4 linked regions of the Homo sapiens genome follow. The protein of the gene in region 1 purifies or fractionates together with the protein of each later gene. This does not show direct contact. Each region holds a gene or a part of one and is shown on either strand. Other genes may lie near its edges. The genes, in order: E2F6, YAF2, L3MBTL2 and CBX3.

Region 1 (7,825 bases):
TGTTCAGGCTACTATAACAGAACACTGTGAACTGAGTGGGCTTATAAACAACAGAAACTCACAGTTCTGGAGGCTGGGAAGTCTAAAATCAAGGCACTGGCAGATTCAGTGTCCAGTGAAGGTCCACTTTGCTTCCTGGTTCATAGATAATGTGATGGTTAATATTGAGCATCAACTTAATTGGATGCAATTAATTTAAATAGCCACAAAGTATGCAAAGTATTGTTCCTGGTGTGTGTCTGTGAGGGTGCTGCCAAAGGAGATTAACATTTGAGTCAGTGGACTGGGAAAGGCAGACCCACTCTCAATCTGGGTGGGCACCAGCTAACCAGCTGCCAGTGTGGCCAGAATAAAATGCAGGCAGGAGAACATGGAAAGACTAGACTGGCTGAGTGTTCTGGCCTCCATCTTTCTCCCATGCTGGATGCTTCCTGTCCTTGAACATCAGACTCCAAGTTCTCCAGCTTTGGGACTCTTGGATCTTCAACCACAGACTGAAGGCTGTACTGTTGGCTTCCCTACTTTTGAGGTTTTGGGACTTGGACTGGCTTCCTTGCTCCTTAGCTTGCAAACGGCCTATTGTGGGACTTCACCTTGTGATTGTGTGAGTCAACACTCTTTAGTAAACTTCCCCTCATATATAAATCTATCCTATTAGTTCTGTCCCTCTAGAAAACCCTGACTAATACAGATGGTCATCATAAACCAAAAAGTATCTGAGACGGGTCTCAATCAATTTAGAGGTTTATTTTGCCAAGGTTAAGGACAATGCCTAAGAGACAGGTCTATACCTTTCTCTGAAGATGATTTTGAGGGCTTCAATATTTAAAGGGGAAAGGGCAGATATTGGGGAAGGGGGAAGAAATTTTTAAAAGGTGTTGATAGATAAGAGCTAAGTGGTTGCATTCTTTTGAGACTTTGATCAGCCGTTCACACAGAAGAGGCGGGTAGAGGAATAGTCACTTATGCATTCACCTAGCTCAGTGAATCTGCACTTTTACATAAGACAAAATAAACATGGCAGAGGAGGCCATCAGCTATGCATTTGTCTCAGGTGAGCAGAGGGATGACTGAGTTCTGTCCTTTGTCTATGTCCTGTCCATACCTATGAAGATAAGCTGTCAATCTACATTGTCCGGGTGAAATTCAACAGAACTATTTTAGGGTAAAGATCTTGGGGCCCACAGGGAATTTCCTGTGGGGAAAATGTGGAGGAAGCATGTAGCTTTTTAACGTTGTAGCTATCTTATTTAGGAACAGAATGGGAGGCAGGTTTGCATGATGCGGTTCTCAGCTTGGCTCTTCCCTTTGGCTTAGGCACTAATCCCACTCCTGGGCAATCTTTCCTCACGACCTAATCACCTCCCAAAGGCCCCATGTCCGAATATGATCACATTGGAGATTAGGTTTCAACATGTGAATTTTGAGGGAACACAAACCTTCTGACCATAGCAACTGGACTCAATGATATCTACAATTTTAGTTTCTTTGCCTGGGCTATCCAATATGGTAGCAACTACTTATGTGGCTATTTAAATTACAAATTATATTAAATTAAATTAAATTGAAATTCACTTCCTCAGACACACCAGCCTTATTTCAGGTGCCAGTGGCCACATGGGGCAGTGGCCACCATATGGAACAATGTGGAACATTTCCATCATCACAGAAAGCCCTAGTGGATATGGTCATTTCCTCACGGACCTCTGGAGAGGACATTTTCAAGTAGAAGGGAAGTAAAATATCTTCTGACAGATGAGGGCTTTCAGGATTGCTCAAGCACACCTGTGCAGTTGGCCTAATATTTCAGCCCTAACTTTAAAAATGATCCCTGGGAAGTATAGTCTTCAGCCCTAACTTGAAAGTCCCAAAGCCCATGCCCCATTCTGCCCTAGCACCATTTTGCCCCAGGAAGCATACACAAAAACAGGGCTGGAACTGGGAAATACCAGAATTTCTGTGCTCAGAACTGTGACTGTATATCAATGTAAGGCCATGGTGGACAAAGCCAAGGATGTAGTGGCCAAAGTCCTGGTATTTGAGTACCCAACCTGGAACAAACTTCTCTGAGCCTCTGTACCCTCATATATATATATATATATATATATTTTTTTTTTTTTTTTTTTTTTGAGACAGGGTCTTGCTGTGTCACCCAGGCTGGAGTGCAGTGGCATGATCTTAGCTCACTGCAACCTCTACCTCCCAAGTTCAAGCGATTCTCTTGCCTCAGCCTCCTTAGTAGCTGGGATTACAGTCGCCTGCCACCACGCCCGGCTAATTTTTGTATTTATAGAAGAGACAGGGTTGCGCCATGATGGTCAGGCTGGTCTCAAACTCCTGACCTCAATCAAGTGAGCCTCCTGCCTCAGCCTCCCAAAGTGCTGAGATTATAGGTGTGAGCCACCATGCCCGGCCTTCTATAAAGTATTCTTGAAATAGCTGCCTCACAGGCAGATGTGGAAAAGCACCTGTAGTTTACAACTAATTCAGTTATTATTTTTTCTTCCTCTGCTGTGCTGCTATTGTGTGTTAGACACACTCTAATTTAGTACTTATGCTTTCTGCTTATGTATCTCCCCCAGGCTAGTAGCCCCTGGAACACAAGGTAAGGCCCCATCAGATTCAGTTCTTCCCTCAACACCTACCCTACTGCTTGGCCCATGAGAGATGCTTCAAAAAAAAAAATGTGCAAAAGATTATGTCTTGGGGAAAAGCCAGGTCACAGGCACAATAAGTGTGAGGATTGTGCCATTTCCCCGACTCTCCCCAGCTCTGTGCTCATGCTCTTTCTTTAGCCTGGACCACTTGCTACTCCGTCCTGATCCACACCCCACCTTTACTTGCCCAACCCCAACTCTGGTTGTAGAGAATCTAGTCGTCCTTGAAGAATCTTCCTAAAGATCTGAATGCCAAATTAATTAATCAGTTGTGGAGTCAAAGCCTGCCTCTACCACTGCCTACTAGGACCTTGAGTAAATTTTTGTAATCCTGCTGATCTTAATTTTGCTGATCTGCAAATTGGGCAGAAAAATACCTATCTTTCAGTTTTGATATGAGATTTACATAAGCAAATGCATGTGGAATGCCAAACACATAGCAGATGCTGAATAAATGCCTTCAAATGGCCATTTCTAACGGCTCTGGGAAATTCTCCATTCTGCAACAATATGCAGTCTTCTCGAGACCTCCGCTACGTTCTCTTTTTTTCTCATCGTTTATTTAGCAAACATTAATAGAGCATGTTTTATTTGCCAGACACTTTGCTAGATGATAGAGATACAAAGATTAGAAGCCAGGCATGGGTGTCTCACGCCTATAACTCCAGCACCTTGGGAGGCTGAGGCAGGAGGATTGCTTAAGGTAAGGAGTTCAAAAAATAAAATAAAATAAAACATAAAAAAAAATTAGCCAGGCATGGTGGCATGCACCTGTACTCTCAGCTACTTGGGAGTCTTAGCTGGGAGATCACTTGAGGCCAGGAGTTTGACGCTACAGTGAATTATGACCGTGACACTGCCCTCCAGCCTGGGTGACAGAAAAAAAAAAAAAAAGATTAGAGAAGGCCTCTGACCTCACAGTCTAGTGGGGAACCAGCTTCTTCGGGGATTTTTCCCTGCCTCACCTCGCCCACCTCAGGCTGTGTAGAAACCCCCAGTCTAACCAGTTGTTTCCCTCCAACTCTGTACATACCACGGTGTGTTGCCTTTTTATTTCAAACATGTGCTGGCCTCTGTTCTAATCACAGCAACCTGTATCCATTAATCCATTTAATCCTCACAACAACCTTATCAGGTAAGTATTGTCATTATTTGCATTTTCCAAATAAGGAAACTGAGGCACAGACAGATTAAGTAACTGGCTTAATAAGGTCTTCTAGTTTATACGTAGAGGCAGCCAGGACTTGAAAACACACCTTCTGGCTCCAGCTAAATTAACATGCTCTGTTTACTTATCTGTCCCCACTGAAATTGGAGGTTGAACCCGTGGCATATTCAAACGAATAAGTATCGCCTGTGCCCACCCCAATATCTGACACTATAGGTCAACGATAACTCATTCGTCAAACAGGAAGGAGGAAGGAAGGAAGGAAGGAAGGAAGGAAGGAAGGCAGGCAGGCAGGCAGGCGGGCAGGCAGAGGTAAAACGATTCCACAATGGTGTGGTTGCTCACATTTACTAAGCATCAACACTGACCTGCCTGTAAGATGCGCTAACAGAGCTCACGAATAAATGAAGGCTGGGTGTGGTAGCTCACGCCTATAATCCCAGCACTTGAGAGGCCAAGGTGGGAGGACGGCTTGAGCCCCAGAGTTCAGGACCAGCCGGGGCAATATACTGAGACCCTGTCTCTACTAAAATTAAAATTAAAAATTAGCCAGGCACAGTGGCGCGCGCATGTAGTCCCAGCTACTTGGGAGGCTGAGGTGGAGGATCGCTTGAGCCCGGGAATTCAAGGCTGCAGTGAGCCCTGACCACGCCACTGCACTCCAGCCTGGGCGACCAAAAAAAAAATTAAAATAAAAAAAAGGAATAAATGAACATCTCTGCGGCTCAGAACTTTCAGTTATCACCTCAGAACTTTCAGTTATCACCGTCGAGAATTCCAGGCGACCGCTGGGTTTTCCCGGTTGCCTCTTTTCTCTCACCCCTGTTCCCTTCCTCTGGAATTCGGCTCCACCTCTTCCTTTTCCTTTGCCAGCCTCTCCGTGGATTCCGCGGTCCGGGTTTCCCGGGCGGCAGCCGCCGGGAGAGGATCGGTGCGTGGGAGCGCTCCGGCAGCGGCGGGCATGCGCAGAGGGGGGCGGTGTACTGCGCATGCGGGAAGATGGCGGGCCGGGCGACTTGAGATCCGCGGGTCTCCCTCCTCTTTTTCCGTCTGCGTCGGGAGCTCCCGGGCACGTGAGGCCGTGCCGCGTTTACTGGCGGGCGGGACGGCCTAGCCGGGCGGCGCCTCGGAGGAAGCCGCGGACCCCTTAGGTGCTGGGCCCTTGGAAATCGGCGCGTGGGGGGCGGTGCTCGAGCTGAGCGCGAGAGGGCGGGAGAGCTCGTGGGGTGCGAGGGGAGCAGGACGCCCGGCCGGGCAGCATGAGTCAGCAGCGGCCGGCGAGGAAGTTACCCAGTCTCCTCCTGGACCCGACGGAGGAGACGGTTCGCCGTCGGTGCCGAGACCCCATCAACGTGGAGGGCCTGCTGGTAAGCTCCGGGACGGGACGGGGACGGGCGGTGGTCTCCCAAATCCGGCCCCCTCCTCCCCGCGCCGCCGCCAACCCCGCTGGCCGTCGTCTGGGTCGTCTGCTCCCCCTGGGCCAGGCGCTGCCCATCACGTGCTGCGAACTGCGCTCTCCCGCCTTCTGCTTTCAGCATCTGCTCACAGACGTGGTATCAGTCTTCTAGGCTTTTACATCGGAACTTCAGAGCACTGTTGGAGAAAATTGCTCAACTTTGCATTAGAGAGTCCATGTTTATCTCCTTCTATGGACTCTAGCTGTATCTCTGCAACCTATCATTTGTTTTTCTGCCTCCTCTCCCATCCTTCTGCTCTACTGCAGCCGTTTAAAACCTTGTCCACGCTTTATATTTCCCACGCCACAGCTCCCATTCATCAAATTATCTCCCCACCTGTTTGACAGAGAAAATGGTTAGGAAATTTGGCTCCCTTTCCTGCAAAGGCTGATTTCTTCTCTTGTTCAGGACCAGATGCTGTATTCCCCGCGGTTATCAGGGCCCTCAACAAATGCATTTTCTTTTTCTTTTCTTTCTTTTTTTTCTTTTTTTTTTTTTTTTTTGAGATTGAGTTTTACTTTTGTTCCCCAGGCTGGAGTGCAATGGCGCAATCTCAGCTCACTGCAACCCCCACCTCCCAGGTTCAAGAGATTCTCCTGCTTCAGCCTCCCATGTAGCTGGGATCACAGGCATGCGCCACCACACCCAGCTAATTTTGTATTTTTAGTAGAGACGGGATTTCGCCGTGTTGGCCAGGCTGGTCTCGAACTCCTGACGACCTCAGGTGATCCACCGAGCCCGACCTCTCCCCGTATTTTCAATTTCTCTGCTGCTTTCTTTCTATAACTAGTAGTAATTAAACATTTTCCCAAGTCATTATGCCTGGTTCCCCTACCAAATAGTTTGTGATTATTGCCTCATTTAATTTCTCATTTCTCACAGCAGTGTTTTATAATACTAAAAGATTATTATTCTTGTTTCACGGTTGCCAAAACAGACTTGGAGATGCATGTAACGCCGGCTTGCCTGTGGCTGGATAATAAGTGTAGAAACTTGGGTTGAAGCTCCAAATGTCTAACTCCAGATGATAAATTCTTGACTACTAAAACCGCATTCTAAATCCATCCCCATCTTAAAAGATCTCTCCCTTGATTCCATATCCCCTCCCATCTACTGTCTCTCTTCCTCTTCACAGCTAAACTTTTTTTTTTTTTTTTTTTTTTTGGTGACGAAGTCTTGCTCTGTCACCCAGGCTGGAGTGCAGTGGCCTGATCTCGGTTCACTGCAAGCTCCGCCTCCCGAGTTCACGCCATTTTCCTGCCTCAGCCTCCTGAGTAGCTGGGACTACAGGCACCCGCCACCACGCACGGCTAATTTTTTTTTGTATTTTTAGTAGAGATGGGGTTTCACCGTGTAAGCCAGGATGGTCTCAATCTCCTGACCTCGTGATCCACCCGCCTCAGCCTCCCAAAGTGCTTTCACAGCTAAACTTCTTGAAAAGGTTATTTACACTCACTGTTTCCACTTGATGGCCTCTTATTACCAGCCAACCCACTGCTGGGGACCCCTATCCTAAGCACACTTGTAAGACCATTCTAACCAAGGTCACCGACAAGCTCGTCAATTCCAGCAGCTGTTGTAGTTTTGACTACAACACTCGTGTTAGAAACCCTCCCTTGAGCTTCCTTGACGTTTGATGCTCCATCTGCTTCTCTGGCTTCTCCTTGTCCTCATCCTCTTCCCATTCCTTCATGTTGATTTGTTTTTCTGTTTTTGTTTTTGTCCCCCCCCCCGGTGCAGGATCTCACTCTGTCACCCTGGCTGGAGTGCAGTGGCACATCATGGCTCACTGCAGCCTTACCTCCCAGGCTCAAGTGATCCTTCTGCCTCCAACTCCCAAGTAGCTGAGACCACAGGCACATGCCACCACACCTGGCTAATTATTTTTATTTTTAGAGATGGGAGTCTTCCTATGGGGCCCAGGCTGGTCTTGAACTCCTGGGCTCAAGCAGTCCTCTCACCTCAGCTCCCCAAAGTGCTGGGATTACAGGCGTGAGCCTCTGCAGCTGGCCACATGTTGGTATTATTCAGGGTTCTCTTCTACCGTCTCTACACATTCTTCTTAGGGGAGTTCATTCACTCCTCCCATGACTTCTGTTACCATCTACATTTGATCATTGAACGACTCAGGGATTGGGGCACCAAATCCCATGAAATTCAAAATCTGAATATAACTTTGATTCCCCCAAAACTTTACTGTTTGCTGGAAGCCTTACTGATACCGTAAACAGTTAATTGACACATATTTTGTATTTATATGTATTAGTTACTGTTTTCTTATAGTAAAGTAGCTAAAGAAAAGAAAATGTTATTAAGAAAATCATAAATAAGAGAAAATCCTACTCCTTCGGGGGAATTAGGTCATCGTAAAGGTCTTCATCCTTGTCTTCACACTAAGTGGGCTGATGAACAAGAGTAAGAGGAGGAGCTGGTTTTGCTCTCTAAGGGGTGGCAGCGGGTAAAGAAAATTGGTCTCTAAGTGGACCCACACAATTCAAACCTGTGTTGTTTGAGGGTCAGCTGTATATTGGTACCATCTGTAT
Region 2 (7,165 bases), on another chromosome or scaffold:
GTCTTGGCTTTAGTACTTGCCAACCTTACTCTGGAAATTACCCTGTTCATTAATAAGTCAATTATGGAGAATTATTTCTTCCAACTACTGAAACTTTTGCTTCTCAACACCGTTCTGCAGTCCTTTAATCTTGTTTTTTTAACATTACCAGAGAGGAAAAATATTAATATTCTGTGATGCAATCAATATCTTCTCTAGTAACAATACCCTGTTCCACACTGTTCTATACAAACACAGATTCTACCCTGAATTTCAGAAACCACTAGGAAAATAACAGATAACAGAGAAATTAGAGCTCTTAGGTTTAACTTAGAGCCAAAATCAAAAGAGAAGAGAATTCAGAGAGAGGAAGGAAGAAGCTGAGAGGGTCGTGGTGTAGAACACTTACTTTCAGGAACACAGTGTCCCTTAGATTTCTGGTGAGTTGCCCAGAGCCTCTTCAGTTTCAATCCAAATGACAATGCTTCTCTGAGTCCTCCTCAAGTAATGTTTCCACCACTAAAAATTGGATCTACAAGAGCTTAGATGTACTGGTAAAAAAAAAAAATGTCAGGGGCCCCCATGTGGGCCTCAAGCCTCTTTTAAACTAGGCCCACTTCTCTGTCCTGGGCCAACTCCCCTGTGTACTATATTCCTTCTTCTTCCAGGTGCCAGGTATTCAGCCTGTTTCTTCTCTTCTGAGCTGCCACCACCTACTCTATTTCTCAGGGTTCCTCTAACCCCAAGACTGGCTGTGGAGTAGGACACCAGCTTCCCCCCTTCCTTGCTGTCCCTGCAAATAAACATATAGGCTCTTCTAGTTTCAGTATTTTTCTAATGGCTACAAGAAAATAGAGAGGGAACAACAAAAAGCAATAATATATAGTACCAGAGATCAAGATTATAATTGTTTCCACTTTAATGTTCCTGCCTCCAAAAAACGAATTTTCTAAAAATTGCTTATTGAGCATTTTAAAAAGCACAAAGTACTAACACAGATACACAAATATACTCTAAACCAACTCCAACCTTACACAGCCAAGAAGATACTCTGCTTTTCAAAATACTTAAATCACAAATCACGGGTCCAAAAATAGTAACCACAATCATTTTAGCAAATACTTTTTTTCTTTTTGGAATGTTCTGTTGTAATCCCTTAAATTTAGCATACGTTTGAAAGTTTGCTTTTTGAATATGAAAAATGTACGAAATATTTTATCAATTGTGGGAATATACAAAAAGCATATGATGATTTACAAAAAACAAGCATGTCAAAACCAGCGAGCTTCACTGAGAAATTTTTCAGATAAGTTACTGTCAACCATTCCTGTCTCTAAATTTTAAACTTAATAAAATTCTGTAAAGTGTTTTTTAAAAAATCAAGATCTCATTTTTTAGAAATCTAACGTCTACTGAATATTTGTATATGTCAATATTACATGTGCCTTCTTTTTTAAAGCAACAGTAAGATTAGTATGCTTATTGTTATAGTTTAGTTTCTAATGGACTTTGTAATATCAAAATACATATCTTCTCTAAATATTAAGTAATAAATCACAGGATTATATTTAATTCAAAGGGTACCTTCGTATAAGAATCAAGGAGCTCGATAACTAAGTGCTGACAGATTAAGAATGCCACTGACTGAATTTCCTGGATGATTTTCTTTATTCACTTAATTCAAAGTCATTTTTTAAAAGACAGAGTTATTATACTGCAAGCTTACAATAAATAAAGTCTGAAAATAGGCAGAGATCTTTTCATCTCATTTGTCTAAGAGACTGCCATTTAATCAAACTAAAGATATAAAGGTACTTTCAGTAAAAATCTGTTCCTGTGACTGGGCTCATCTCCAACTACTTATTTATAAAATATTAGAGTACTGGAATAAAAACACTAAATAAAACCTTGATCTGACCCTTCCAGAAGTACATGTAGAAAAATAAGTTTTAATATATTGTGTATTCTGCAATCAGATACTTTTCTTTCTTTAGGAACGAAATTAAATTACATCCTTTGCTCCTAAAGAGATTTTATGGGTTTTCCTTGATCCCCACACACTAACACAACAATGCAGCCAACATTTTTATACCCAGAATGGGGAGAGGGGCATTACACCCAGCGATACGAATTAAATCGCAGTAGCTAATGCCTCCCTTAAATAATTTATTCTCTCTTGGCAGCAAAAAACGTTACAGCCTCTTCAATTACCCCTCACCGCAAACCATCGCCTGGGTTGCGATCAATGTGACCCAGTTCCTATCGCCACAGCCACCTCCGTCTGCCTCCTCCCGCCGGGTCCGCCAGTGTCATGGGAGGGGGCGGCAGCCGCAAGGGCGTCCTCTGGTCGCCACCCCGCCGGCCGGCGGCGCGAGGGGCAGGCCCGGGACTCACCGGGTGGAGGTGCCCTTCCGCACATCGCACATCATGCACTTGAAGGCCTCGGCGCTGTTCCGGAAGGTGCAGACGCTACAGTCCCAGTAACCCTCATCCGAGGACGGCTTCGGCTGCCGCTTCGGCCTGCAGGACACAACCCGGACACGACGCGGCGCGGGGTCACCAGCAGGCCGCGCCCGGTGCCCGGGCCCCGCGGCCGCCCCCGCCCCGCCCCCCGCCCCAATTCTGCGACCCCCGCCCCGCGGGCCCTCGGCGCGCCGCGCTCCGGCTGAGGGGGAAGGGAGTCAGGAAGAGGCAGGGCGCGAGCGCGGCCGCAGTCGCCGCCGCCACAGCCGCTCTGACACCCGGGCGGCCGCTCCGGTCGCCGCCGCCATCGCGGCTCCATTGTGGGGCGGCCGGCGCCGGCCCCCTCAAGCGGCAGCACTCGCACACCAGCGGCGCTGCCCCCGTGCTCGCCCCGGTGCCCGGGCGGCTAGCGAGGCGGCCACCCGAAGCCCTGCACGAGGGCCCTGCCGCCCGCACAGTCCGGGCCCCGGGGCCCGGGCGCTGTTACCTGGTGGGGCTCTTCTTGTCTCCCATGGCTTGGCTATCACCGCACGCCGAGAGTCGCCGCCGCGACCGCTCTGTTTGTCAATAAGGAGGATAATAAGCCGGGCGGAAGCGGGCGGGGGAGGAGGGAGGGAGGGGGCGGGGAAGGCCGCACCGCCGCGCTCGGGAGCCGCCGCCGGATCCCACGCAGCCTCCAGCTGTCGGGGAAACTCCTGCCTGGGCGCACGTGACCCTCGCCGGCCAACCAGCAGCCGCGCCGGAGACTTCAAACGCGGCCAGCGCGGCCCAGCACCCGCGGCGAGTTAGCCGGCGGGCGGTGCGGGGGTGGCCGCGGTGGCCGCGGCTGCCTCGGGCGCCGGCGCCGCCTCTCCGCGCTGTTCCCCCGTTGCCCCCTTGGTACCCCCGGCTGCCGGGGACTGCCTCGCGCTCCAGAGCCCCTCTGAGGAGGAAAACGTCTGTCCCACCGACTGGCAGGGGATGCTCCGTCATCCCGTGCGAAGCCTGGTCCAAGGTAGGGCCGGCCGGCGTTCGGAGGCCTGTCCAGGTCTGGACAGAAGTGCCAGCCCGGGATCTCCAGGTAGAACGACTTTCCTGGCCTCCGCTGTCCTTAGCTACCCAGCCCCCGCCTGCAGTATACCGGGGGGAAGGCGGGAACCAACACGCAGCGCCATTGCTACATGCCTTAAAGCACTGTCTGGTTTATGCACACAGATGCTCTAACAAGTAGGGATTGTCAACCCTAACTTAGAGGAATTGAAATCAAGACTCAAGAGAGATTAGGTGACTTCCTCTAGGCTATATAATTAGAAAATGACAAAGCCAAGAGTCTAACTCTGTTTTAATTCCAAACGCGCCCTTTTGGCCTCTCAGGCCTCTGCAGTAGCTGCTTTTGAAAGAAACCCCTATATACTCATAAGTCCTTTTTAAATATAAGGAGTTTGCATGTCCCCTCAACGCTGTCTGCTAACAAAAGAACACCTTCCCAGGTCTCTACGTCAACATACTAAAGGTCCTCATACTCCAGACTCCAGCAACAGCCATCTAACTGGTCTCCGAAGCTCCACTTCTACCTCCCCAATGTATTCAGTAATCCACAACCAGATTAATAATAAAATGCTGTTAATACTATGCCACCACTCTGATAAAGAACCACTAACGACTTGCCCACACTCCTTAGCCTGGCATTCAAAGGCTTCACACATTTTCCCTACCTCTGCCTCCCTCTCCCATAAGGAAAGCTGCCTCCTGACAAAGAGTGCAGATGAAATTCATTCCCTTACCAGAACCCTTCCTTCATGCACATGGGTTACTTCTGCATAAAGTATATCCCTCTTTAACTGTGCTGTTTCTGTCCATCTTTCTAGGTTTACATCAAGTCCGAATTCATGTAAAATAATTTTATAGCTAAACTACATAGGAAATAATACAGTCAGAAGCCCAGGATTCTCAGCCTGCTTCTCCTGTTTCTTAGCTGATAGACCTTGGAAGTATTGCTTAATTTCTGTAATTCTCAACGTTTTCATATTCTGAATTGCATCTATATGAGATTGTTGTGCGATTAATAATAACATTTTTTGGCCGGTTGCGGTCGCTCACGCATGTAATCCCAGCACTTTGGGAGGCCGAGGCGGGCGGATCACCTGAGGTCAGGAGTTCACAAGACCAGCCTGGCCAACGTGGCGAAACCCCATCTCTATTAAAAAATACAAAAATTAGCCAGCTGTGGTGGCGGGCGCCTGTAATCTCAGCTACTCGGGAGGCTGAGGTAGGAGAATCGCTGGAATCCGAGAGTGAGAGGTTGCTGTGAGCCGAGATCGTGCCACTGCACTCGAGCTTGGGCGACAGAGCGAGACTCCGCCTCTAAGTAAATAAATAAATAACATTTTTTTGAGCACTATGTGCCAGGCACTTTGTAAATCCCTGCGCATAGATGCATATTTTAAAGGACTCAAAGTACTATGCACATGGCCTCATCGACTGCAGATGCTCTTCGATTTAGAAAGGGGATACTTCCCGATAAATCCACCTTAAATAGAAAATATTGTAAATTGAAAATGCATTTGGTACACCGATAAATCCATCGTAAAGTAGAAAAATCGTAAGTCGAGCCATTGTAAATCCGTAGTCTAGCCCTTCTTTTTAAAGACAAGGCAATTAGGGCCCAGGTTAAATGGTTTTTCTTTGATGAGCAGGCCAGGGTTAGAGCTCAGGTATCCTATTGGTCTTTCACCGCATCTTCTTTCTGATTAACCAAATCACTCCATTTACATAGCAGTCTCTAAACTCGTTGTACCATCTGTACTTTTTGCAAATGTAGCTTCTCATGATTCAGACCCAAATTCGGAAACCAGGAACCATGAGGAGTATGATTGAGGCACGTATACAAGAGAACCAGATTTAAGGCCTAGTCTTTAACCTCTCAGTAATGCAGTGGGTAAACTCAGCTAAGTTTTTTTCATATGTAAAATAAAGGAGTTAAAACTATTATCACAACTAAGGTCCCTTGCAAGTCTAAGGCATTGTGATGTTTTTAAATGCCTCAACTGGATGGATCCTCAAATAGACTGACAAGAACTGCTCTACTTGCAAAAGTGATGGCAACAATGTATTTTTAAATAAAAAGGAAACTAAATCAAGCACTCTAAAAATCCCCCATGCTGCAAATCACCATTTCACTAGATTGTAACCTCCCTCACTAAAAAGTAAGCCGCACCTCTGAATCATGAACAAAAAGCACAATAACTTTTGTTGCCTTTATTGCTGCATCTCCAGCCCCTAGAACAGTGTGACACATAGTGGGCACTCAATAAATATTCTGAGAATAAATACATCCACTTATAGTCAGGTTAGCGCGCGCCTGTATTCCCAGCTACTTGGGAGGCTGAGGCAGGAAGATAACTTGGGCCCCGGAGTTCCAGACCAGCCTGAGCAACAAAGCCAAGACCCTGTTTCTAAACTAAATAATCAATACATTCACTTGTGTTACAATTGTTGAATGAGATTTTTTTCTTTCATATTGGGATTTACAAACTGTTAGGCATATTGCATGCAGTGGATGGTCAATAAATGCCAGAATTAACATTTATCCTTCAAAATGAACTTTACAACTCCACACATCCTTGTCGATGAACCAGGAACCTAGTTTTTGTGGAGCACAGAATCATATGCCCTTGCACTATACCAACTGCCTCCCATTTATGGGTGTTTCTCTTAAAAAAAAATCTCTGCCCCTACTAGGCTTACGTGGAGACAGTAGTACAGGAGGTACTCCTCCCATTTCACCACAAAAAGTCACACCTTTCCTAAAGTGTTTACTAGCTGTAAGAGTGGCTGTTGTGGAGAAAACAGATCTTTTTATTACTAAAGTGGCCCAGGTTCTTACCCAATCAGGTGTCTTTTCAATACAGTAACAGAGTTCAGTACTTTAGAAATGTTAATTCATTACGGTCACTTGTAAAGTGACAAACACTAACGATCGTTTTAACAATTTAACAAGTGTTGAAGTTTTCTGATGATTTACTTTTTTTGTTGTTTGTTTGTTTTTTTGTGTGTTTGTTTGTTTTTTTGTTTTTGTGTGTGTGTGTGAGAGAGTCTCACTCTAGTGCCTGGGCTGTAGTACAGTGGTGTGATCATAGGTCACTAAAGCCTTGAACTCCTGGGCTCCAGCGATTCTCCTGCCTCAGCCTCCTGAAGTGTTGGGATTCCAGGCATGAGCCACTGTGCCTGGCCTTACCTTAATGTTTAAAAGGTAAATGAGGGCAGACCAGTGGCTCATGCCTGTAATCCCAATACTTTGGGAGGCCGAGGTGGGCAGATATCTTGAGCTCAGGAGTTCAACAATAGCCTGGGCCATATGGGGAAACCCTGTCTCTACAAAAAATACAAAAATTAGCCGGGTGTGGTGGCATGCACCTGTAGTCCCAGCTACTTGGGAGGCTGAGGTGGGAGGATCACTTGAATCCAGGAAGCAGAGGTTGCAGTGAGCCAAGATCACACCACTGCACTCTATCCTGGGTGACAGAATGAGGCTCTGTCTCACAAAAAAAAAAAAAAAAAAAAAAAAAAAGTAAAGCAATCTTTACTTTCCCCAGTTACTGAGGAAGCTGAGAGCTGAGGCAGGAAGGATCACTTGAACCCAGGAGCTGTGGGCTGTAGTGTGCTATACTATTCGAGTGTCTGCACTAAGTTCGCCATCAATATGGTGACTTCCCAAGAGTGAGGGGCCACCAGGTTGCCTAAG
Region 3 (7,025 bases), on another chromosome or scaffold:
CAAGCCCCAGGCAGTCGTGGTTGTAACTGCTTTTTAAAATCTTTTTTTAAATAAAAAGATTTTTTGAAGAGGGTCTCACTCTGTCACCCAGGTTTGAGTACAGTGGGGTGATCACAGTTCACTGCAGCCTTGACCTCCCAGGCTCAGGTGATCCTCCTACCTTAGCCTCCTGAGTAGCTGGGACTACAGGCCTGTGCCACCATACCCAGCTAATTAAAAATTTTTTTTAAATTAGGGGTCTCGCTATGTTGCCCAGGCTGGTCTCAAACTCTTGGGCTCAAGAGATCCTCCCACCTCAGCCTCTCAAAGTGCTGGGATCACAGGTGTGAACCATCACACTCAGCCCCCGTTTTTGATTGTTGATTTCTTCCCACAACATGCACCATTCCCGGTCCTACCGTTTGAATGGTACAGAGCCTCTGCCTGCTGGATAAATGCCACACCCTCACTCAATTTTTTTTTTTTTTTTGTGCGATGGAGTTTCCCTCTTCCGCCCAGGCTGGAGTGAAGTGGAGCGATCTGGGCTCACTGCCACCTCCGGCCCCCAGGTTCAAGTGATTCTCCTGCCTCAGCCTCCCAAGTAGCTGGGATTACAGGCGCCTGCCACCACACCTGGCTAATTTTTGTATTTTTAGTAGAGACGGGGTTTCGCCATGTTGGTCAGGCTGGTCTTGGAACTTCTGACCTCATGATCCGCCCACCTCGGCCTCCCAAAGTGATGGGATTACAGGTGTGAGCCACCGCGCCTGGCCGCCTCACTCAATCTTAACCCTGCCCAAGGGACCTTGTTTCTGTTTCAGAACATCCTCTTCCCCACATGGTACCACACTGTGGAGCCCACCTCGCTGTCATAGGCCTGCGGCTCTGAAGGATGGCTTTGCCCGCTCCCGCTCTGCCCCTCAAGTGGAACCCAAGCTGGGCTCAGAATCTGTAGAGTGAGGCCCCACCAAGGGAAACGACACCCACGGCCTGAGAGCCAGGTGGAGTCCTGCCACTCAGCTGCCTGCCTTTGCTCCCACCCTCTCCCACCCTCAAAGAGGTCTCGAGGTAAGAATGACAGCCTTGGAGAGACAGCTTCTATTTCTTCCTGTGGCTTTTCCTTTAGAACCTAGCAGCTGCGGCTTGCCCAGGCCAGGCTGTTTTTTTCTGAACATGGGGCATCAGGGATGGGATCCCCCAACCTCAATCTCTTACCTCTTTTCCTCAGCACCCTGACCATGGCCAGAGACTGAACACTCCCTATTTATGGTCTGGGTCCCCAGAGACAGGGTGAAAGGCCCGTAGGCCAAAGGGCAAGGGGAAAGAGACAGGACAGGAACACGAAGAGAGCTACGTCAGTAGGACAGCACCTGGGAACCAGTGCCTGGGGGCTGACCCCCGCCTGCTCCCAGGGACGCAGGCCCACTGCTCCCAGGCCCACACCAGCCTGGCTGCACCGGTGCAGCACTTACTTTTCTTCCCAAACTGTTTCTTTTTCTTCTTTGTGGCCTCTTTGGCCTTCAGCGGTGTGGCCGGTTCTGTTGTTGAAAGACAAGGGTGAAAGAGATGAGAAGAGGGTCCCTGGGAGGACACAGGGCACAGGCGCATCCCGAGACCCCATCCACCCTCCCACACGAGACACCCCAAGACAGGAAGCCAAACCTGGGCAATGAGGAGAGGGCGGGGCTGGAGGAGGGGCCGGAGAACAGCTGTCCCTTCTTCCCACCCTTGTTACCAGGGCTGCTCAGAGGGACCTGGGTAGTTTACCTGGGTGCACAAGGGCACGAACATATGACAGAGTGGGCAAGATGAAGGAAGGAGCTCTGCAGGCCAGAGGGAAAGGGAGACAGAGAAGTCAGGAGCAGGGGCTGGGTGACGGGGCTCACTCTCTACTTAAAGTGGTCCATGAGACATCTCCACCTCATGCCAAAGAACGGAGATGGGCACAGGGGCGGGGGAAGAAGGAAAAAAGAAGAGGAAAGAAAGTCAGAGCCTCTTAGGGCCACGAGAGCCCACACCTGCGGCCACAGGAGGCTGGAGCTGGTAGCCGGTGAGCTCACACCAGCCGACGGGGTAGATGTCTGGGGACTCGCAGTCCACCCACTGGTCGTACTCGCTGTCCCAGCCGTCAAAGTGGATGCTGAGGAGCCGATGCACCACTCGTTTCACCGTGGCCACACAGATGAGCCGGGGCTCCATCAGGTCCACGGCCTCCAGCTTCATGCCCACCTTGAAGCCATGGTTTGGGCAATCCTGGGGCAGAAAAAGGAGGCAGTGGCCAAGCCAGTCAGCTCCCTACCCCAGCAGGCTTGCCCCGGCCCGGAGGCACTTGAAGAACTGGCAGGGAGGGGCGGGGACTGGAATGGCTGCTGGGGCAGCTTCCTCTAGACAATAACCCACTGCACCTCTCCCAGTACCGCCCTCCATGGAAGAGGGACTGGAGTGCCCAGGCCATAGCTGGGGACTTCCCCCTGAAAGTGGCTGATGTCAGCAGTAGAGATTCGAGAGAAAGAGTAGGAACTGCCACCACTGACAGCAGCAGGCAGGGCCTGTCCTGAGGCCACCGCAGGCCCCTTGCTCCACTTCAGTCTCCTCACCATGTTAAAGAGTCTCGATGGAGCGGCTTTCGACTTGGTCTTCTCCAAGTAGTTCTCCCAGTTGAAAGTCTGTGCCTCATAACCTGGAGGAGCAGAAAGCTCAGATGCAGAGGGAGAGGGGGAAGCAGGAAGTGGGCAGGAGGAAAGGACACATGGCTGAAGAAGCTCTGCAGCTTGGTCAGGACCCAGCATGGAGTCTCCCCAGCAGCCTTCTTCTCATCCCCTCAGGGTAGTACCTGCTCTAGCACCACAGTCCTGTTGTATAGGTTGTTCACTGACCAATGGGATAAGTGGGAGCTCTGTTCATCAACCATACACTGGCCATGGGGTAGGGTCAGCCCAGCAGTTAAGGGCTGGTGGTGGGCTCTGTCACCTTTCCCATACACCCTGAAATGCTACACTTCTGGGGCCTGACTTGACCAGGAATCTGGGCTTGTGGCCACACCCTGCCCCTTCTGTTTTGTTTTGAAGACAGAGTCTTGCTCTGTCGCCCAGGCTGGAGTGCAATGGCATGATCTCGGCTCACTGTAACCTCCACCTCCTGGGTTCAAGCAATTCTCCTGCCTCAGACTCCCGAGTGGCTGGGATTATAGGCACCTGTCACCATGCCTGGCTAATTTTTGTATTTTTAGTAGAGACGAGGTTTTGTCATGTTGGCCAGGCTGGTCTCAAACTCCTGACCTCAGGTCATCCACCTGCCTCGGCCTCCCAAAGTGCTAGGATTACAGGCGGGAGCCACCGCGCCTGGACACCCTGCCCCTTCTGATGGCAAGGACAGCAGGTGGTGGCCTCTCTAGTCTTACCTTTTGGCGGTGTGAGCTCAATGTCATTCTTCTGACAGAAGGTGGCCGGGAAGATGGCGTGGGAAGAGGCATGGTAGCAGAACCAGTCCAAGCCATCTGTGGAGGGCCCCCCGTCCACACAGATCATCAGGTATCCATCCAGGAGAACCTGGGGGGTGGGGGGAGCAGGCAGACAGATCATATCATGAACTGCACCCCATCCTGGGTTGGTACCGCACCCCAATAGGGACACGAGGCAAATGGATCCAAACGGATCTAGGGCATGGCCCTCCTGGAGGACACCTGAGCCTCTCTGGGGCACACAGTACTTCTGTGATGCATACGCGTGGGATTCTTTCTCTTCCCCACTAGACAGCAAACACCACGCCAGCAGGGGCCGCGTCCATCCTGTTGGACCGTGTTCTTGGGTGAGCACACGCGCCCGGCATGGAGCGGATCCGCGGCGAGGACGAGTCAGCAGCCTCCTCCAGGAGGGCCAAGGAGGGGTGGGGGTGCTGCTCAGGAGGAGGCGATGAGGTTTGGAGCAAGGTGACCCCAGCTGTGGCTCTTGCCTAGGCCAGCGCTCAAAGGAGATGGCACACAGCAAGAAGGCCCCAGTGAGGTGACAGGGAGGGGCCTACTCTGACACAGGACCAGGCTCAGGTGTTGAATAAGCACTCGTCCAGGGAGCCTTGGACCCTGACACGAAAGCAGATTCTGAGCAAGGGGCAGGCCAGGCCCCACTCACAAAAGTCAGGGACTCTGGGTGCAGCCAGTGATGAGAGGCTGGGACACAGACCCCCTGACGGTGGCGAGTGGGGTTAGAGCTCTGGGCCACATGGGTCCCCCCGCTCAGAAATCTGGAGGCTGGAGAGCCGGCCCCTGGCTCACCTTACAGACAGTTGCCACGCAGATGTTGCCCAGATTCAGGGGGTCAATGGCCTCCAGCTTCATCCCTTCCTCAAACCAACCGCCTTCTGTGTAGACTGCTCGTACCTTAAAGGAATGGGACAGCTGGGGACTCCCTGGGCAGGCCAGGAGGAAGGGTGAGGGAAGCAGGCCTCAGGAGGGAAAGGGATGGTCCCAGGGGAAGAGCCAGGTCCCTCAGGCCCGGAATGGACCCATGGCTGAGGGGAAAAGCGCCCAAGAGCTGAACCTCACCTTCTTGAAGAGGTAAGGAACGGCATCACAGTAGATCTTCCGGAAGGTGGGGTGATGGGCCATGTCACTTCGCCTCTCTTTGGAGGAGATGGATAGGGAATGAGGGAGAGAAGGGAGTTGGAGGCGGCTCCTGGGCCATCTCCACACGCCTCCCCTGGGAATGTGGGGCTGCTCTGCACGTGTTCTCAGCTGTATCTCTGTATCTCAGGACCCCCCACCCCAGAGTAGCAGACAGAAAGGTTGAGTCCAGAAAACATCAAGAGCTCTCTGTAGGGACTCTTCAGCCCTCGAAACCCAGACTGCTCCCGCATTGACAGGGGAGAGGATCGGGGCTGGTAGCATCTGGGTTCAAATCTTGATTTTACCACTCACAAGTTGAGTGGAGTGACTTTTGTCAAGTTACTCAAGCTCTCTGGAGCTCAGTATCATCACTGCAGGGGGGCCATGCCAACCTCCACCTGCTGACCTGCTGTGACGAGTAGGAAGGTGCTCCCACTCCGTCCCTGGGGAAGCACAGCATGCAGTCCCTCTGGCCTGGGGCTCTGCTAACCTGACATCTTGATGCCGTGGCCCACACGTCGTGACCAACCCACTGGGTGGATCAGGGGGCTCCACATGTGGCACCAGAAGTCGTCGTCACTGTCACCATCCTCGTAGAGGAGCCGTAGGCGACCCCCGATTACTGTGTCCACCACAGCCATGCGAGTGCGTGACACCTGGGACTTGTCCACCACTTCCAGCCGCATGCCCTGCCTAAAGGGGTACTTCATGCTCTCCACCATCTGAAACGACGTCAGAACACAGGCCTGCTATGGCTCAGGGCTCTTCCCACCCACCCTCCTGCTCTGGTGAGTGGAGGACAGGGAAGGTGTGGTGTTATCCCCCACACTCAGTCAGTCGGGAGGTGGCAGATGAGACTGCCTGCGCTGCCAGGCTCACCTTGGCCCTGACTCCCTAGGAGGACACAGAGGGAGGCAACAGCTCTCCCTAGGAGGACACAGAGGGAAGGCACACGGCTTGCAGTGGGCATGCCACTTCTTGCCACCAAAACGCCAATGAGTTGATGCAAATCACAAAACGCACTTTAGACTAAGGAAAAGTGACCCAGAGGTCACGCCTGCCCAGAATTACACAGACTCATTTGTGCCAGAGCTGGGCCTGGAAGCTGGTGTGCAGCCTGTGCTCCTCATGGGCTCTGCACTCTGATCCCCAGGCATCCTGCCCTCCCCGCCCCCTCCCAGCCCTCTGCCTGTGGCACATACAAGACTCATGTCCAGAGAACTGAGTCTTCCTGTGTCCCTTTCTGACCCTGATGGGCTGCAGCTCTGCAGTGCTTTCACAGTGCCTTGGTAGCAACTGACCTAATGAGGGATGGTGACCAAGATGCCCTCGAGCTGCTCTACAGAGAGCCATGGTGCTGGGGTACAGAGGAGGAGGTTCTTTTTGTTCACTGTGACTTCAGTGCTGTCCTGCCTGGGGCAGGGAACAGGTAGGGTGTAGGGCTTTTCCAGCCCCAGGGCACTGCTGGGTCAGGAAGAACCAGCCTAGACTAGACTAAGCAGTGCTATTTCCAAACACACCAGGAAGGAAAGCGTCTCAGAGGTCACAAAGCAGCCAACAGGCAAAGCTGACACAGGGGTCCTAAACCAGACAGACCCTCTGGCCCAGCTCAAGGGCTTGGGATACGTCCTGACACCAATTGCCTGTCCCACATCCGGTATCCCAGCAGCTCACTCAGGAGAGTGAGAGAAAACACAGGGTAAGGCCTGGCTCGGGGCCCCTCTGGGCTGCCTTCCCTGCCATGTTCTCTTCATCTACAGCCAACACAGTGCAGCCCACAATCCAACGCCATTTTTGTTAGTTTTTGTTTTTTTTTTTGAAATGGAGTCTCCTCGCTCTGTGGCCCAGACTGAAGTGCAGTGGCACGATCTCAGCTCACTGCAACTTCGGCCTCCCGGTTTCAAGCGATTCTCTCACCTCAGCCTCCTGAGTTAGCTGGGATTACAGGCGCATGCCACCACACCCAGCTAATTTTTGTATTTCTAGTAAAGACAGGGTTTCATCATGTTGGCCAGGCTAGTCTGGAACTCCTGCCCTCAGGTGATCTTCTGACCTCGGCCTCCCAAAGTGCTGGGATTACAGGAGTAAGCCACTGTGCCGTGCCTAGCTAATGTTTTTTTTTTTTTTCAAGAGACGAAGTCTCACAGTGTTGCCCAAGCTGGTTTCAGACTCCTGGCCTCAAGTGATCCTCTTGCCTTGGCCTCCCAAAGTGCTGAGACACTGAGACAGGTATGAGTCACTTTTACCATGTATATATGTGACTTTTTAATTTTTACTAAATCATTTCTTAAAATTAAATGCCACAAAGATGATTCTGTGCCACACAGGAGTCCTACACCAGACAGAATCAGACAGCCCAGAGGCGCCCCAGACTGGGCTTTACCCTGTGCTGTGCCAGGCACATCCCTGGCTCAGAACCGAGGCTATATTACAATTACTTGTGTGC
Region 4 (7,757 bases), on another chromosome or scaffold:
TCATTAAAGCCATCCCACAAGTAAAGCAGCAAGCAGAAAAAAGTTAAGAACACCTCAAGGCTACAGAAGGACATTTCAAGCTATGCAGGCATATGAAGTGTGCAGACAGATATGTAAGAAAGGCCTCAAGACTGCAAAAGGGCATTTCAAGCTATGCAAGCATATAGGTAACACATACACACACACAAAATAAAAATCCCCTGAAATACAAAAACATGCAGCAAACACCTGACGTTTTTGGATACCATTTCTAAGTCAGGTGTTATGATTCTCATTAGTCAAGATACTTGAGTACTGGGCCCAAACAGCTTTCTGCCACTGTACAGTACAAGAAGGTAGGAATAATGGTGGGAGGAGCAAAGACAAACTGTAATAGACAGAAGTGTATCAGATACCTATACTACATGAAAAACAAAACAGCTACTGCCACAAAGGGAGAAGGCTAACAAAATAAAGTCAACAATAAATACAGAAAATGAAAAGGATACACACTAAGGTTTACAAAAAAAAAAAGGCAGACAAAATGCCATACAGTATTCATTCACTACTATGGCATTCATAAGCTAGTTTCAAATGCTCACTATTTTCTTTTATAGTATATATTTGCCTTAACCCAGCACTTTTTTCCAAAAGTGGATGAGTCAAAATAAATTTCCCATTATTTAAGTGAAATTAACAGCACACATATCTCACAACACTAATGAATTTTTAAAATGGAAAGTTAAGAACTTTTAAAGTGGCCAACCTGTGATCCTTCACAAAATAAACTAAATACAATAACAGACCCCAAAGGCTATCAATTGCGTGCAAAAACAACTTCTGTTTTCCAGGGTAAACAGAATCTAATGCAGAATCTAATGCAGGGTAAACAGACTTAATGCAGAATCTAATGATGGCACAAATTAAAAATCACTAACGTGCCCTTTTTAGTGTGAAACCCAGAGAGAGCACATACAAGCCAAAAACAAATGCTTTATTTTACCTAGGAGACATTAACATTCACCTTTACGTGTTTAAGATTAATGCAATGTTAAATATTGTGAAAACTGTAACTTTGAATTTCATGATTTTTATGTGAATATTCCAGGGTTTAAAAAAACTTGTAACATGACATGGCTGAATAAGATAAAAAAAAAATCTAGCCTTTTCTCCCTTCTGGCTCATATTTGCGATTTCGATCATTTTGTTTAAAAAACAAAACACTGCAATGAATTAAACTTAATATTCTTCTATGTTTTAGAGTAAGTTAAAACAAGATAAAGTGACCAAAGTAATTTGAAAGATTCAATGACTTTTGCTCCAACCTAGGTGCACAAGGTACCTTGTTCTTTAAATTGGGCTTTAATGAAAATACTTCTCCAGAATTCTGGGGATTTAAGAAAAATTATGCCAACCAACAAGGGCTTTACCATTTTATGTAACATTTTTCAACGCTGCAAAAATGTGTGTATTTCTATTTGAAGATAAAAATCCTCAGCAAAATCCACATTGCACTGTCCTTCAAAGATTAGCCTTCTTTGAACTAGTTAAGACACTATTAAGCCAAGCCAGTATCTCCCTGTAATGAATTCGTTTTTCTCTTAATTTTCCCCTGTAATTTACACTGGGAGAGCTGGGAAATATGTGGATGTAAATTTCTCAGCCACAGAGATGCAAAGTTATACTGTGGGGAAAAAAAACTTGAGTTAAATCCTTACATATTTTAGGTTTTCATTAACTTACCAATGTAGTTTTGTTGGAGGCCATTTTTTATTGCAGACTTGAAGAGCTATTACTAGAAAAATGCATGACAGTTAAGGTAAGTTTGCATGACACAAAAAAGGTAACTAAATACAAATTCTGTTTGGATTCCAACCCCCAAGTAGAGAGCGCACATTTCAAACGTGAATACAAATCCAGAGTAGATCTGCGCTCCTACCTACATTGCTTATGATGTACTTAAGTACGTGTCCTAACCATGTGAGTCTAGAAAGACTTTACTGGGGATCCTGGTACCTAAAACAGCTTCACATGGCTTAAAATAGGGGACCAATGTCTTTTCCAATCTAAGTCCCATTTATAATAAAGTCCATGTTCCATTTTTAAAGGACAATCCTTTCGGTTTAAAACCAGGCACGATTACCCAAACAACTCACAACGGTAAAGCACTGTGAATCTTCTCTGTTCTGCAATCCCAACTTGGTTTCTGCTCAGAAACCCTCCCTCTTTCCAATCGGTAATTAAATAACAAAAGGAAAAAACTTAAGATGCTTCAACCCCGTTTCGTGACACTTTGAAAAAAGAATCACCTCTTGCAAACACCCGCTCCCGACCCCCGCCGCTGAAGCCCGGCGTCCAGAGGCCTAAGCGCGGGTGCCCGCCCCCACCCGGGAGCGCGGGCCTCGTGGTCAGCGCATCCGCGGGGAGAAACAAAGGCCGCGGCACGGGGGCTCAAGGGCACTGCGCCACACCGCACGCGCCTACCCCCGCGGCGGCCACGTTAACTGGGCGGTCGCCGCAGCCTCGGGACAGCCGGCCGCGCGCCGCCAGGCCTCGCGGACGCGGGACCACGCGCCGCCCTCCGGGAGGCCCAAGTCTCGACCCAGCCCCGCGTGGCGGCTGGGGGAGGGGGCGCCTCCGCCGGAACGCGGGTGGGGGAGGGGAGGGGGAAATGCGCTTTGTCTCGAAATGGGGCAACCGTCGCCACAGCTCCCTACCCCCTCGAGGGCAGAGCAGTCCCCCCACTAACTACCGGCGCTGGCCGCGCGCCAGGCCAGCCGCGAGGCCACCGCCCGACCCTCCACTCCTTCCCGCAGCTCCCGGCGCGGGGTCCGGCGAGAAGGGGAGGGGAGGGGAGCGGAGAACCGGGCCCCCGGGACGCGTGTGGCATCTGAAGCACCACCAGCGAGCGAGAGCTAGAGAGAAGGAAAGCCACCGACTTCACCGCCTCCGAGCTGCTCCGGGTCGCGGGTCTGCAGCGTCTCCGGCCCTCCGCGCCTACAGCTCAAGCCACATCCGAAGGGGGAGGGAGCCGGGAGCTGCGCGCGGGGCCGCCGGGGGGAGGGGTGGCACCGCCCACGCCGGGCGGCCACGAAGGGCGGGGCAGCGGGCGCGCGCCCGGCGGGGGGAGGGGCCGCGCGCCGCGCCCGCTGGGAATTGGGGCCCTAGGGGGAGGGCGGAGGCGCCGACGACCGCGGCACTTACCGTTCGCGGCGTGGCGCCCGGTGGTCCCCAAGGGGAGGGAAGGGGGAGGCGGGGCGAGGACAGTGACCGGAGTCTCCTCAGCGGTGGCTTTTCTGCTTGGCAGCCTCAGCGGCTGGCGCCAAAACCGGACTCCGCCCACTTCCTCGCCCCTGCGGTGCGAGGGTGTGGAATCCTCCAGACGCTGGGGGAGGGGGAGTTGGGAGCTTAAAAACTAGTACCCCTTTGGGACCACTTTCAGCAGCGAACTCTCCTGTACACCAGGGGTCAGTTCCACAGACGCGGGCCAGGGGTGGGTCATTGCGGCGTGAACAATAATTTGACTAGAAGTTGATTCGGGTGTTTCCGGAAGGGGCCGAGTCAATCCGCCGAGTTGGGGCACGGAAAACAAAAAGGGAAGGCTACTAAGATTTTTCTGGCGGGGGTTATCATTGGCGTAACTGCAGGGACCACCTCCCGGGTTGAGGGGGCTGGATCTCCAGGCTGCGGATTAAGCCCCTCCCGTCGGCGTTAATTTCAAACTGCGCGACCGTTTCTCACCTGCCTTGCGCCAAGGCAGGGGGCGGGACCCTATTCCAAGAGGTAGTAACTAGCAGGACTCTAGCCTTCCGCAATTCATTGAGCGCATTTACGGAAGTAACGTCGGGTACTGTCTCTGGCCGCAAGGGTGGGAGGAGTACGCATTTGGCGTAAGGTGGGGCGTAGAGCCTTCCCGCCATTGGCGGCGGATAGGGCGTTTACGCGACGGCCTGACGTAGCGGAAGACGCGTTAGTGGGGGGGAAGGTTCTAGAAAAGCGGCGGCAGCGGCTCTAGCGGCAGTAGCAGCAGCGCCGGGTCCCGTGCGGAGGTGCTCCTCGCAGAGTTGTTTCTCGAGCAGCGGCAGTTCTCACTACAGCGCCAGGACGAGTCCGGTTCGTGTTCGTCCGCGGAGATCTCTCTCATCTCGCTCGGCTGCGGGAAATCGGGCTGAAGCGACTGAGTCCGCGATGGAGGTAACGGGTTTGAAATCAATGAGTTATTGAAAAGGGCATGGCGAGGCCGTTGGCGCCTCAGTGGAAGTCGGCCAGCCGCCTCCGTGGGAGAGAGGCAGGAAATCGGACCAATTCAGTAGCAGTGGGGCTTAAGGTTTATGAACGGGGTCTTGAGCGGAGGCCTGAGCGTACAAACAGCTTCCCCACCCTCAGCCTCCCGGCGCCATTTCCCTTCACTGGGGGTGGGGGATGGGGAGCTTTCACATGGCGGACGCTGCCCCGCTGGGGTGAAAGTGGGGCGCGGAGGCGGGAATTCTTATTCCCTTTCTAAAGCACGCTGCTTCGGGGGCCACGGCGTCTCCTCGGCGAGCGTTTCGGCGGGCAGCAGGTCCTCGTGAGCGAGGCTGCGGAGCTTCCCCTCCCCCTCTCTCCCGGGAACCGGATTTGGCGGCCGCCATTTTCATGGCTCGCCTTCCTCTCAGCGTTTTCCTTATAACTCTTTTATTTTCTTAGTGTGCTTTCTCTATCAAGAAGTAGAAGTGGTTAACTATTTTTTTTTCTTCTCGGGCTGTTTTCATATCGTTTCGAGGTGGATTTGGAGTGTTTTGTGAGCTTGGATCTTTAGAGTCCTGCGCACCTCATTAAAGGCGCTCAGCCTTCCCCTCGATGAAATGGCGCCATTGCGTTCGGAAGCCACACCGAAGAGCGGGGAGGGGGGGTGCTCCGGGTTTGCGGGCCCGGTTTCAGAGAAGATATCACCACCCAGGGCGTCGGGCCGGGTTCAATGCGAGCCGTAGGACAAAGAAACCATTTTATGTTTTTCCTGTCTTTTTTTTCCTTTGAGTAACGGTTTTATCTGGGTCTGCAGTCAGTAAAACGACAGATGAACCGCGGCAAAATAAACATAAATTGGAAGCCATCGGCCACGAGGGGCAGGGACGAAGGTGGTTTTCTGGGCGGGGGAGGGATATTCGCGTCAGAATCCTTTACTGTTCTTAAGGATTCCGTTTAAGTTGTAGAGCTGACTCATTTTAAGTAATGTTGTTACTGAGAAGTTTAACCCTTACGGGACAGATCCATGGACCTTTATAGATGATTACGAGGAAAGTGAAATAACGATTTTGTCCTTAGTTATACTTCGATTAAAACATGGCTTCAGAGGCTCCTTCCTGTAATGCGTATGGATTGATGTGCAAAACTGTTTTGGGCCTGGGCCGCTCTGTATTTGAACTTTGTTACTTTTCTCATTTTGTTTGCAATCTTGGTTGAACATTACATTGATAAGCATAAGGTCTCAAGCGAAGGGGGTCTACCTGGTTATTTTCTTTGACCCTAAGCACGTTTATAAAATAACATTGTTTAAAATCGATAGTGGACATCGGGTAAGTTTGGATAAATTGTGAGGTAAGTAATGAGTTTTTGCTTTTTGTTAGTGATTTGTAAAACTTGTTATAAATGTACATTATCCGTAATTTCAGTTTAGAGATAACCTATGTGCTGACGACAATTAAGAATAAAAACTAGCTGAAAAAATGAAAATAACTATCGTGACAAGTAACCATTTCAAAAGACTGCTTTGTGTCTCATAGGAGCTAGTTTGATCATTTCAGTTAATTTTTTCTTTAATTTTTACGAGTCATGAAAACTACAGGAAAAAAATCTGAACTGGGTTTTACCACTACTTTTTAGGAGTTGGGAGCATGCGAATGGAGGGAGAGCTCCGTAGAACTGGGATGAGAGCAGCAATTAATGCTGCTTGCTAGGAACAAAAAATAATTGATTGAAAATTACGTGTGACTTTTTAGTTTGCATTATGCGTTTGTAGCAGTTGGTCCTGGATATCACTTTCTCTCGTTTGAGGTTTTTTAACCTAGTTAACTTTTAAGACAGGTTTCCTTAACATTCATAAGTGCCCAGAATACAGCTGTGTAGTACAGCATATAAAGATTTCAGCTCTGAGGTTTTTCCTATTGACTTGGAAAATTGTTTTGTGCCTGTCGCTTGCCACATGGCCAATCAAGTAAGCTTCAGCTTTCAGTAATTGTTATCTTAGAGATTATGCCACGTGAATGTATTTTATTGTACATATGGTTAAGCTGAGTAATTCATATTCTGTATTGTCATATATCAAATATAGACATGTCCACCAAAAATTAAACTTTTTAAGCTTCGAGTGCTGCTGGTCATAAAAATTAATTTGTCCTGGTTATAAGAGTAATTTTTAAGGTTATTTCTAATGCATATCTTTAAATATTTTCGTAACTGAGAGTCATATGGAGAAACTTAGTGTTTGTTGTAAAAAGTTGTGTTTTTTTGGCTGAGATACTTAGAATCACCACCAGAGGGGGCAGTTAAGGGAAAATAAATGATACTTTTCAGATATTGAATAGTGAAATAAAAACTTTGGGTCATAAGTAATGAACCAAGAGTTATTTTCTGATGTTTAAAAATAGAAATTTGCGTTTTTAGGTTGTAGGGTTGAAATTTTTGGTAAAGATTCTTTAATAATCCTTTGATAATCACGGTCTACATTTGTTTATTTTTCCTTAGAAAGTTTTTTTTTTAATTAATAATTTAAGATAATTTAATGTTGAGTAAATTTATATCAAGCATTAATGACTTTGAAACTTGTGTAGATCAGCTGAGGCAATTTTTTGGTGTAACACAACTAATATGCAGTTTAACATATGGTTTAAATTTGATGTAAGTTTTTTTTTTCCCCCCAGAAAACTTTAGAAACTGTTCCTTTGGAGAGGAAAAAGGTACTCTGCCAGCAGGTCACCTCATATTTAAGAATTTAATTTCCTGCATACAAAGAGGAAAATGTAAATAAAAATTGAAATGGTATTTTCCTTTGCAGAGAGAAAAGGAACAGTTCCGTAAGCTCTTTATTGGTGGCTTAAGCTTTGAAACCACAGAAGAAAGTTTGAGGAACTACTACGAACAATGGGGAAAGCTTACAGACTGTGTGGTATGTAAATTACTGAATTGTTACTGGATATTAGTCTTTTAGCTGTATGTTAAGTGAATCATGGAGGAAATAACTATCAGCATAGTAAAAAATTCTATTATGACTTCACTTATAAGCTATAATGAGATTAAATGCTAAAGTTTACCCTTTGGTTTGAAAGGTAATGAGGGATCCTGCAAGCAAAAGATCAAGAGGATTTGGTTTTGTAACTTTTTCATCCATGGCTGAGGTTGATGCTGCCATGGCTGCAAGACCTCATTCAATTGATGGGAGAGTAGTTGAGCCAAAACGTGCTGTAGCAAGAGAGGTAAGCAAACAATGACTGTCTTGTGCATTAACATGAAGAACGCTGCCCTGCTGAAAATCAGAAACTATTTCTGAATTTAGTTTTAACTCAAGATTTTTTCTCTTATTAAAGGTGTGTTGGGTTTCTGGACCATTTTCTTAAGCTAGCTTATTTTTCAAAAGCTAGGTCCCTAAAAGCTATTTTATATCTGGTAGTTTTAAGGTGGATACAAGCGAAGTATGGTACTACGGTTGGGTGCTTTGAATTATGCTTGTGTTTTTTTCTGTTTGGATGACTTTTACCCCACCACTATTTTAGGAATCTGGAAAACCAGGGGCTCATGTAACT

What was found.
Region 2: the proteins of E2F6 (region 1) and YAF2 purify together in Homo sapiens (affinity purification with mass spectrometry; 5 studies listed by BioGRID and IntAct, with this or other methods). This does not show direct contact.
Region 3: the proteins of E2F6 (region 1) and L3MBTL2 purify together in Homo sapiens (affinity purification with mass spectrometry; 7 studies listed by BioGRID and IntAct, with this or other methods). This does not show direct contact.
Region 4: the proteins of E2F6 (region 1) and CBX3 purify together in Homo sapiens (affinity purification with mass spectrometry; 4 studies listed by BioGRID and IntAct, with this or other methods). This does not show direct contact.

What each region holds. Positions count from the first base shown.
Region 1 is NC_000002.12:11,463,139-11,470,963, reverse strand, and holds the start of E2F6 (transcription factor E2F6), read left to right. Parts: upstream 1-4,802; 5' UTR 4,803-5,084; coding exon 5,085-5,192; intron 5,193-7,825. UniProt on the Homo sapiens protein: Inhibitor of E2F-dependent transcription. Binds DNA cooperatively with DP proteins through the E2 recognition site, 5'-TTTC[CG]CGC-3'. Has a preference for the 5'-TTTCCCGC-3' E2F recognition site.
Region 2 is NC_000012.12:42,235,226-42,242,390, forward strand, and holds the start of YAF2 (YY1-associated factor 2), read right to left. Parts: upstream 3,024-7,165; 5' UTR 2,956-3,023; coding exon 2,930-2,955; intron 2,511-2,929; exon of another isoform or gene 2,500-2,510; coding exon 2,374-2,499; intron 2,346-2,373; exon of another isoform or gene 2,208-2,345; coding exon of another isoform or gene 2,191-2,207; intron 773-2,190; coding exon of another isoform or gene 571-772; exon of another isoform or gene 1-570. UniProt on the Homo sapiens protein: Binds to MYC and inhibits MYC-mediated transactivation. Also binds to MYCN and enhances MYCN-dependent transcriptional activation. Increases calpain 2-mediated proteolysis of YY1 in vitro.
Region 3 is NC_000022.11:41,222,296-41,229,320, reverse strand, and holds part of L3MBTL2 (lethal(3)malignant brain tumor-like protein 2), read right to left. Parts: intron 5,302-7,025; coding exon 5,070-5,301; intron 4,597-5,069; coding exon 4,520-4,596; intron 4,355-4,519; coding exon 4,250-4,354; intron 3,528-4,249; coding exon 3,380-3,527; intron 2,660-3,379; coding exon 2,577-2,659; intron 2,233-2,576; coding exon 1,998-2,232; intron 1,803-1,997; coding exon of another isoform or gene 1,747-1,802; intron 1,518-1,746; coding exon 1,452-1,517; intron 1-1,451. UniProt on the Homo sapiens protein: Putative Polycomb group (PcG) protein. PcG proteins maintain the transcriptionally repressive state of genes, probably via a modification of chromatin, rendering it heritably changed in its expressibility.
Region 4 is NC_000007.14:26,196,988-26,204,744, reverse strand, and holds the start of CBX3 (chromobox protein homolog 3), read right to left. Parts: upstream 3,001-7,757; 5' UTR 2,919-3,000; exon of another isoform or gene 2,136-2,918; intron 1,775-2,135; 5' UTR 1,747-1,774; coding exon 1,723-1,746; intron 1-1,722. Other genes in the region: HNRNPA2B1 (heterogeneous nuclear ribonucleoproteins A2/B1), read left to right, coding at 4,168-4,173, 6,879-6,914, 7,013-7,123, 7,284-7,430, 7,728-7,757.